Linked DNA regions of Homo sapiens. The protein of the gene in region 3 purifies or fractionates together with the protein of the main gene of each other region. This does not show direct contact. Each region holds a gene or a part of one and is shown on either strand. Other genes may lie near its edges.

What was found.
Region 1: the proteins of KCNA4 (region 3) and CSNK1G3 purify together in Homo sapiens (affinity purification with mass spectrometry; one large-scale study listed by BioGRID and IntAct). This does not show direct contact.
Region 2: the proteins of KCNA4 (region 3) and UTRN purify together in Homo sapiens (affinity purification with mass spectrometry; one large-scale study listed by BioGRID and IntAct). This does not show direct contact.

What each region holds. Positions count from the first base shown.
Region 1 is NC_000005.10:123,588,596-123,592,257, reverse strand, and holds part of CSNK1G3 (casein kinase I isoform gamma-3), read right to left. Parts: intron 1,849-3,662; coding exon 1,700-1,848; intron 940-1,699; coding exon 844-939; intron 1-843. UniProt on the Homo sapiens protein: Serine/threonine-protein kinase. Casein kinases are operationally defined by their preferential utilization of acidic proteins such as caseins as substrates. It can phosphorylate a large number of proteins. Participates in Wnt signaling.
Region 2 is NC_000006.12:144,459,695-144,463,356, reverse strand, and holds part of UTRN (utrophin), read right to left. Parts: intron 2,161-3,662; coding exon 2,015-2,160; intron 704-2,014; coding exon 491-703; intron 1-490.
Region 3 is NC_000011.10:30,009,185-30,011,747, forward strand, and holds the end of KCNA4 (potassium voltage-gated channel subfamily A member 4), read right to left. Parts: coding exon 1,533-2,563; 3' UTR 546-1,532; downstream 1-545. UniProt on the Homo sapiens protein: Voltage-gated potassium channel that mediates transmembrane potassium transport in excitable membranes. Forms tetrameric potassium-selective channels through which potassium ions pass in accordance with their electrochemical gradient.

The DNA.
Region 1 (3,662 bases), on a different chromosome or scaffold from region 3:
TTAAACTTCTGCTTCATATTTTATATTATTCACTCTCCCCAAAATGCCCTTATCTTCATTTCCCTTTAAAAACTCCATTCATTCTTTAGGTTCATGTCAAAAGCTACCTTTTCCATAAAATCTTCATAGAGCCCCACATATGATCTCCATGCTACTTTATTAGTGTTTCATGTAATATAGCTTATTCTCTTTTTAAATATAGCTATTTCTGTATTTATTGTAATAATAATAACAGTAACAGCAGACACAAGAGTTTTGATTCAAAGCTTACTGTATGCTCTAAATTAACATGCATTATTTCCATTTTATAGATGAGGAAACTGAGGCTTTGACAGATTAACTTATTTGCCCAGGGTCAAGCCATATCCATGTATGCCTGATTCTAAAGAATTGAGTGAACTCTTAGCTACAACACTGCTTTTAGACACTGGTGACAAAATCATTCTTAAAGGTTATACAGTCTTCTTTACTTCTGAATTTCTATAATGTGTAGAACAGTAGCTTTACAATAGCAGAAATTCAATAAATAATTTATTGAACTAAACTACAGTTAGAAAGTCCAAGTGTTATTACAATTCATTCTAATAGGGTATCCAAATACTTCCATTCTAACAGAATATCACATATTCCTAAAAGTTTACACTAATTTGTACCATTAATTAAGGATTTATGATTAAACATTTTAATGCTATTATTAAACTAATAAACAGTGAAATTAAGAGAAAATAGATTATCTATTAAAAATATGTATTTTCAATCCTTCAGTCTGTTTTATCTATTGAAGAAAAAAGTGTATGTTTCAATCATGAAAGGAAGGTATTTCATATCTAAAGGGCAGCAAACCTGGTTTTTGGATTGTTGCATCTTATCTCTGTGTTGATGTGCTTCTCTGTTTGATGACAGAGCAGGATCTTGCTGAACTGCACCCACTGGAGTAGGCTACAATACAATAACAATTGGTATCAATACATTCCATTTTAAAATTCTTATTTAAAATCATTTAGCTGCTTAAAAGAATTAAGGAAAAAAACAAAAGACTGTTAAATAAACTAAGGCTTTAAGTAAAGGCATCATTATCAAAATATGTTGTTAAAGCTAAGAAGGTAAAGCAAAAAGAATATACCTACTTTTTAAAGTGTTTTTAAAATATTCAAATTCTTTATAAAGTACTTATTTTTACATCTACAGAACACTTAATGCTGCCATTACTTTTAGGCTACATTTTCATATCAACATGATAAAAATGTATATGTTTATGCCTCTCATTTCCAAAGCAAATGTATACATAGAATAAACTTTTAAGAAAATTAAAAGAATAAAAAAACTAATAAAATTACTTATTTCCAATATTTTGACTTGAAGAGACTCATACAAATTTTAATTTTCATCAAGGGATTGAAGTATTAAATTAATCATGAGAATATTACACAAAAAAGAGTATATTTGACATTAAGAACTAAATCAGGATGAAAAGTTAAAAGTAACTCTTCATGCTAAAAGGCAAAGAATCCAGATGTAGGGCTTCTGAAAAACTCAAAGAACACTAGTACGGCACTACCTGCAGAAATGTCCCTTAAAAAACAATAAAATGAATCCTTTAAAACAACTATTTGTTCTCAACTCTTTTCAATTGAAGATATTGTACTATTAAAAAGGCAACAGATACTGTAAGTAATATATTATTATATAGAATACTCACCAACTGTTTACCAATCCAGTCATATTCATAATCAAACATATATCCTTTTCGATCAAACAAGTCAGTAAAAAGCTTTCTTAAGTAGTCATAGTCTGGTTTTTCAAAAAAATCTAGCCTTCTTACATAACGAAGATATGTTGCCATTTCTTCTAGAAATAATATAAAAATTATTTGGACTATACTTTTCTTTAATACTCAGTAATAAAATTAAGTATCTAAAAGCACATTGTATTATATAAAAACACTTGAAAAGTAACAAAATTACATTGCAATTTAAATTTTTCTGAGTTTAATTACAACAAAATAAAAAAGAGGAAAAGAAGGAAGGGAATAGAGACACAAGAAAAATGGGAGGTTTAGTTTAACAACCACTATTTTTGCTTCATTTCATTAGGAAAAGCTAAAATTTTCATTTTTATAAGATTATTTTTAATATTTGGTAGTATGAGAAGTTGAATAAGCAGTTTAATAATGCATGATTAATCACAAAGCATCATATTCAGTTTATAAATTTAAAATTTTATTTAAAATACCGGTGAGAACTGATTTATATGAAAGCATCTGTATTGGCTTGCTGGATTTCCTTTAGAATCAGTGACATAAACCAACTAACTAATAGAGAATTCAAATTCCTAACCTTGGCTTTGAGCAGTATTCTAACCAATTAAGCTAACAAAGGAAAGCTAAAACAAATCTCAAAAACATAACACAAGAGGACAGTGTAAGTCTTCTCTTAATTTCTGGTCATATATTTAACAATTATTTGGCGATATACAAATCTCTGCATGCTATTATAATTCCAAAATGTATTAGATACATGTATCTAATACATGCAAAAACAAACAAACAGACAAACAAATATATAAATATAAAACAATGGGCAAAATGGTGAGCAATTAGTAAAGCAGGGCATTTCACCATCAGGGCACAGAAAATCACTACAGTAAGAGATGGTAAGTTACACCTAGCATTCACAGGCAGCCCCAGCCAACAGGAAAAAGATCACACCCAGCACAATGAGGCAACAAAAGTGGTGTGCAGTGACCTTCTTTAGGTGGTGACTCTCCCACTATTCCACTTTCTAGCTAAATACCTGGCTAATTTGATTTGGCAACCCCATTTTTCCCACCTTTATATAGGCTTCCTTAATGACAACTACCCTATCTGCCTACACTAAACTGCTAGTACTATTAACCGACATTTTAAAAAATCTACTTCTAGATATTATAGCAAGAAAGGAAAATATATAATTAAAGTTTGCTGTCAATGAATAATATAAACAAGCTTGAGAAAGAGCTACTTTTGTTATGTTGATAATATTATTATTACATTAATAACGCCAGCATTATACAGGAGAACTACGGAATACTAAAGTGAGATAGGAATTCCGTATTTTATCTTCAAATTTAGCTCTCTTTTCACTTAATGTGGCTGCACAAATAAATCACAGTCATTATCTTAATATACTAACAAGTTATTCTTATTCCTTAATTGATGTAGAAATCTTAAGTAAATTTTTTTTGGCTTAATTTGAGTTGCCATAAATCTACTTGAAAGCAAAATTATTTTCATAAATGCATACAGCTCCCCAATATAAAATTAGCCCCAAACTAGTGAGGTCAGTAAGGTTTTACTGGCCTTACTTAATTTAAGTTTAATTTGAAAACTAAACCAAATCATACTTCACATACCTCCTTTGAACTTGACATTGAGACCCAAATGACTAACACTGAATACCAAAACTTTGTAACTGGCATTTCTTAGCAAAAATTTTAACTCATTAAAAGTATATCACTAAAGAAAATATTACTTCAGCTGGTAATGATCAACACTATTAACAGACAGGATTTTCTTCTATTAATACCATTTGCAAAGCAAATACACAAAGTGTCCCTGTGGGTTCGGCATCAAATGCTGACAACCTTTAAATCATATTTTTAGCTCTTTTTTTTTTAAGCATAGA
Region 2 (3,662 bases), on a different chromosome or scaffold from region 3:
GATCCTGTTTCTGAATTTTCATGTCCCTGGAACGATTTGCCTTCCCACTCTGACACTGTCAATGGCCTATCTCTGACTTTTGACTTCAAATGTCAAAAACCTGCAAAAAGTAGTTTCATGTATTCAGCAATTTACTACTACCTGGGCTATTTCTACCACCCCAACCAAGTTACTACTATAATCTAATCAACAGTCTGTATTTCACACAGGCCCTCCATGCCTGAAACATTATTTTGACCATTTTTAAGCAATTTTCTCTTATCTTCAAGGTCCAGTTTACTCTACTTTTGACTTTGCTTCCAGGCAAAAGGAAATAAATGTGCTCTCTAGCACATTAAAAGTACATCTTTGATAAGTCCCAACTTAAATACATAATAAATGGGGATCTAGAAAGAATGTAAAATATTTAAATAATAAATACGTGAATCTTATAAGATAATTACTATTTACCCCGTAATAAACTTAAACTCCCAGTGGCCTCTGGATTTACCTCAAAAGCTCTGAGTGTGAGAGCAATTTCCTCAAGCAAATGTAGATCTTTGGAAACCAAGACCTTTAGCTTGTTCCACTTTCCTTGCACATCATCAAATTCTTGCTTATATAATTTTTCTACATCAGGATGAACATTTTTCTCCAGAGCCTTTGTTTCTTCTGCAAGTTTATGTAATGCAGGTTTCTGATTCTCAAGGATTTCATCAAGGGTCTGGAAAAAGTTTTAAAAGATTAAAAATATGCACAAAAATGTGTCTGCACAGATATAGTAAAATGGGCTATATAAAGTCAAAAGTCACTTTAAAATGCATTAGAAAGCATTTTTATCTAAAAAGAACAGTGGGTGGGAGTGTGAATTAGTTCAACCACTGTGGAAGACAGTGTGGTGATTCCTCAAAGACCTAAAACCAGAAATGCCATTTGACCCAGCAATCTCACTGGGTATATACCCAAAGGAATACAAATCATTCTGTTATAAAGATATATGCACACTATGTTCATTGCAGCACAATTCACAATAGCAAGGACAAGGAATCAACCCAAATGCCCATCAATGATAGACTACTTAAAGAAAATGTGGTACATATCAACCATGGAATACTATGCAGCCATAAAAAGGAACAAGATCATGTCCTTTGCAGGTATATGGATGGAGCTGGAAGCCATTATCCTCGGCAAACTAATTCAGAAACAACAAAAAAAAATACCGCATATTCTCACTTATAAGTGGGAGCTGAATAATGAGAACATACGGACACATGGTGGGGAAAAACACACACTGGGGTCTGTTGGAGGGTGGGGCATGGTGGGAGGGAAAGCATCAGGAAGAAGAGCTAATGGATGCTGGGCTTAATACGTAGTGCAGCAAACTACCATGACACACGTTTACCCATTTAACAAACCTGCACATCCTGCACAAGTACCCCTGAACTTAAAATAAAAGTTGGAAATCAAAAAACAAAACAAAACAAAACATGAAAAACTCATGAAAAAAATAGGCATAATCATAAAAATTAAAGCTTTTTCTTCATGAGTTGTGTGTGGGCAATACAGTGTATTCTCAACCCTAAAAACCAAGGGAACAGCAAACCCAGTGTGGGCCAAGTGTGCAGTGCTCAATGGCTGCTCTCCTTTTCATCTAATAGCACAGAGCCATAAGGCTACTCAACTAAATGACCTCGGAAACATTCCTATTCGATGCAGAAAAAAGTATACATCAACACGTCAACTGATAGTCCTCATTTCATAAAGATATTTTAGCAGATTTTATGAACAGGTTGAGAATTTTAAGCTAATCACAGCAGAAGGAGAAAATATGCTTTTCTTCTATGAAAAAATTTTTAATAACTGTACTTTCTTTTATGTGAGGTCAAACTAACCCTCAAATCATAAACACATTTTTGCACCAATGATGAACAAAACTGACCAACTTTTTTTTTAATCTCTGAAAAAACATTTCAAAATATGTAAGAGGAGATATTAGAAGAAGCGCTAGAGTTCTAACATGGAAGATATATGTTACCTTTTTTTCTTGCAGGGCCTTCTCCACCTTGGCAAGATCATTAAGGACATTCAGAGACACCTGGGCCTTATTTTCTGAATCATTTAGCACATCTTTCAGTGTTTTCAATGTTTCCAGATATGCATGTCCAGGTTGGCCCTTCAGTTCTGTTTATTTAAAAATATTTAGTTTGAAAAAATCATATTAGGAACCAATATTATTACATAGACCATTATCCTAAATGAATTCCAATACATGGCAAAGGAGACCCCATGATTAAAATGTAAAAGGGTCTCTGTTAATTAACAACATAGATCATTCCATTGGCATTTCTGAGAGTCAGACAGTGACTTCATTCCTGCGGATGTTGACGTTTGAAATATTAACTAACCCACTATAATTTTTCTTCATTTCTTCATGATGAAATGTCTCTCTGAAGATGGAACAACAATGTCCCTTTTGTTCCATATAATCTCCTCTTCCTTAACAGCTACACAAAGAATAAAAGAAAACAAAGATCCCTTCAACCAGTCTTGCTGTAAGCTCCACCGTGTAGACAAACCCAGGTCCAGAGTGGAGGAGATTATATGGAAATACTGCCACCATGCTGCCCAGGTACCCTGAGAAATAATGACTGAACAGCCAGCTGGAACAGTGTCTACCTCAGTCACTAATGTAAAAATATCACAGAAGTAACACTTGCGTGGAAAGGAAGTGAGTTCTCTTGAAGCACAAAGAGGTGAAACCAACTAGCAGCAAAAGTTAAACTGCCTACTGATCCTTGTCAAAAGTGAAAGCACAGCTTGTACCAATAAGTGGAGAAAGAGGTACCCTCAAAGACATATTTCACATAACTGAATTCAAGGAACAAAGACATGCTGTCCAGATGCACTTTCAGAAGAAAGGCAATACGACACATTTGCCTAGCATGCACACATACAGACACTTCCAGTCATCACACAATCTACAATTGCTGAAGTTAGGCTGGGTTACATGTGGAGCATTTCACACAATGCTCAATGCATTTCACAAAATAATGCACAATGCAACACAGTTCCTAACTCAAATGGCAGCTAGGAAGTAAATAGTGTAACGTAGGAGGGATGAGCTTTCAAAATCTTTAACAGTGAACCTTCCAAAACCAAGTGTATTCCAAAAGTAAGAACTCTAAAATTTTTCTGAATCTGACAGTGGAATATGATTTCTTTTAAAAGACAGTATGAGACTGCCAAAACTTTAACTATTTTGAGGAAACAGAAGTAAGGGATCATTCATTTTGATCCTCCTAGCAATGATATTAAGTGGCCTCCTCAACCAAAGGAAGAAATTGCACCTGTTTCTCAAAAAAAAAAAAAAAAAAAATCTTTAAAAATCATTATATCCAGGTCAGGTACAATGGCTGACACCTGTTATCCCTGGTATTTTGGGAGGCTAACATCTGTTATTTTGCCTAACACCTGTTATTTTGGGAGGCTGTTATATCACCTGTTATAATGGCTTACACCTGTTATTTTGGGAGGCTGAGGTGGGAAGATCACTTGAGCCCAGGAGTTCTAGACCAGCGTGGGCAACATAGCTAGACCCTGGCTCTACTAAAAATAAAAAACCAGCCAGGCATGGTGGTGCATGCCTGTAGTCCCAGCTACTCAGTAGGCTGAGGCAGAAGGAC
Region 3 (2,563 bases):
TTTTGTTCCCCCGCCCCCAACCAGAGCTCAAGACAATCATTTTATAAAGAACAGAAGTTAAATAAACATTGTAGAATAAGGCCTCTTATGCATTCTGAGTTTTCTAACCTATACCTCATGATTTCATAGTGCAAGGCTGATCGCTAGTTGTTATCTCACATTCTAGAATGCTTTGTCATGACTTAAATGCAGTTATATGTGTCATAAATTCCTTTAATAAAGATAATAATGATGGTGATGTTGAAACCAAATGTTTGACACAATTCTTCCTTATGTCCATTTTAGCAAATATAATGTTAAAATCTGAGGTTAATCCCCAAATTCTGTTCTTATATAACTGCACAAAAAAATAAACTTAATAAATCTAGCGTTTATGTTTCACATTTAATAGAAAAATTTTAAGCCATAATCACTGTAGCTGCTTGGCATCTTCTTCAAGAATTCTTTCAGTGCATGCATTAACTTTGGTTAAATTATTCTGGAGTTAAAAGGCAGAAGAATATATAAAATAGTATGATTTCAGAAGCATCATTCTAACAGACCAATTTCAAAAGATTCAGTTGCTAAATTTTACTTCATAATTCCTTTGTCAATCAGTTATTTAGATTTTAAAAGAGGAGAGAATCCTGTGATGTTATCTGCATGATCATTAGTCTCACACAATGAAAAGAAAACAATAAAATAAGACTAAAGAAATCATTCTTCCAATGATTGTCATTGAACTGTTACATTAGTAAACATTCACAGTTTGAAGTCTCTCTCAATCTCCAGCATATAAAGTAGTGCAAAGAAAAAAAAATCCAGTCCTGTTACCTGCAAACAAAACTTATTACATATTCTCCAATTTCACTTATTCTATAATGTTAGACATTTGCTGTTAAGTCTTCCCAAAATTAATAACAAAATATAATCAATTTCTAAAGGCCCTTGCAGCCTTTTTAAAAGTTAATTTCCAGTTAAAAATAAATTTTAATTAAATCCAAGATAAAATTGTGACCTATAGTCTATTAAATAATTTACTTTCTTTTTTCTCTACACAGTATTTCTTACAATTTTTAAAAAACAACTACAGAATCCAAAGACATACGATATGCTGTTAAAGCACTGATAAATGACTGCTCAGATTCATTAGTTCTTACATAGTAAATACTTCAAAATGCCAACTTTTCCCTTCACTGCACAATTACTAACATTGACAATTTACTTCACACACACACACATATACACACACACGCACACACTCTCTCTCTCCATCTTTACTGTTAACATCTTTTCCAGTTAATGTGCAAAATTCTTGCATTCTAATAAAAATATAAAGATAGATTTGCTCCTATTCCTCCCTCTTCTCCAAGATGTATCATTTATTTGATATGTAATACAAGTTTAGTAACAATTATGCCATGTATAACCATTAAATAGTGTACTACTGTATGCATTGGATCATTTGCATATTTCATTTTCATAACTGCACTCTCTATGCATAAATATATTTGGAGATGCTGAGGGGGGAGCAGTGGCAGGTGGAAAAAGATTCACACATCAGTCTCCACAGCCTTTGCATTAGAACAGTTGTTTTTATCTGTCTCACTGTCATCCCCCTTTCCCTGACACTTCTCCTCCTTTGCACACAGAGATTCCTTAACTCCTTCTTCCATCTCTAGATACTCTGACTTGTCCCCCAGGGAAGAAGAAGTAGAGCTCCGAAATTTCTTGAGCAAATTAGAGGGGAGGTATGGACAACTGACTGCATTCTGCGTTAGCTGTGTCTGTTCCTCATTTTCAGTCTCTCTGTGGTAGAAATAGTTAAAGTTAGAGACAATCACTGGCACTGGCAAAGCAATGGTTAAGACACCCGCAATGGCACACAGGGACCCGACAATCTTGCCCCCTACAGTGATGGGCTTCATGTCCCCATAGCCCACAGTTGTCATGGTCACCACAGCCCACCAAAATGCATCTGGGATGCTTTGGAAATGGGTAGTAGGTTCATCCGCCTCTGCAAAATACACAGCACTAGAAAAGAGGATGACCCCAATGAAGAGGAAGAAGATCAGAAGGCCCAGTTCCCGCATGCTGGCTCTGAGGGTGTGGCCCAGGATCTGCAGGCCTTTGGAGTGCCTGGAGAGTTTGAAGATCCGGAATACTCGGACCAGACGAATGATTCTGAGGATGGCAAAGGACATGGCCTGCTGCTGCTGACCATTGCCACCCCCCTGTTGCTGGGCCAGGTCAGTGCCCAGTGTGATGAAGTAAGGCAAAATGGAGACAATGTCAATGATGTTCATGATGTTTTTGAAGAAGAGTGCTTGGCTGGGACAAGCAAAGCAGCGAACCACAAACTCAAAGGAAAACCATACAATACAGACTGTTTCCACGATGAAGAAGGGGTCATTGAATATTGTGTGCCCTGAGTTCTCCAGATGGGGTGCTGAAGTATCATTCAACAACCCACCATGCCCGCCAGCACTCAGTGCCATGACGAGATCCCTGTCGTCCCTAAACTCAGGCAAGGTTTCCAGGCAAAAGATGACAATGGAGATTAAGATGACCAGGACGGACACAA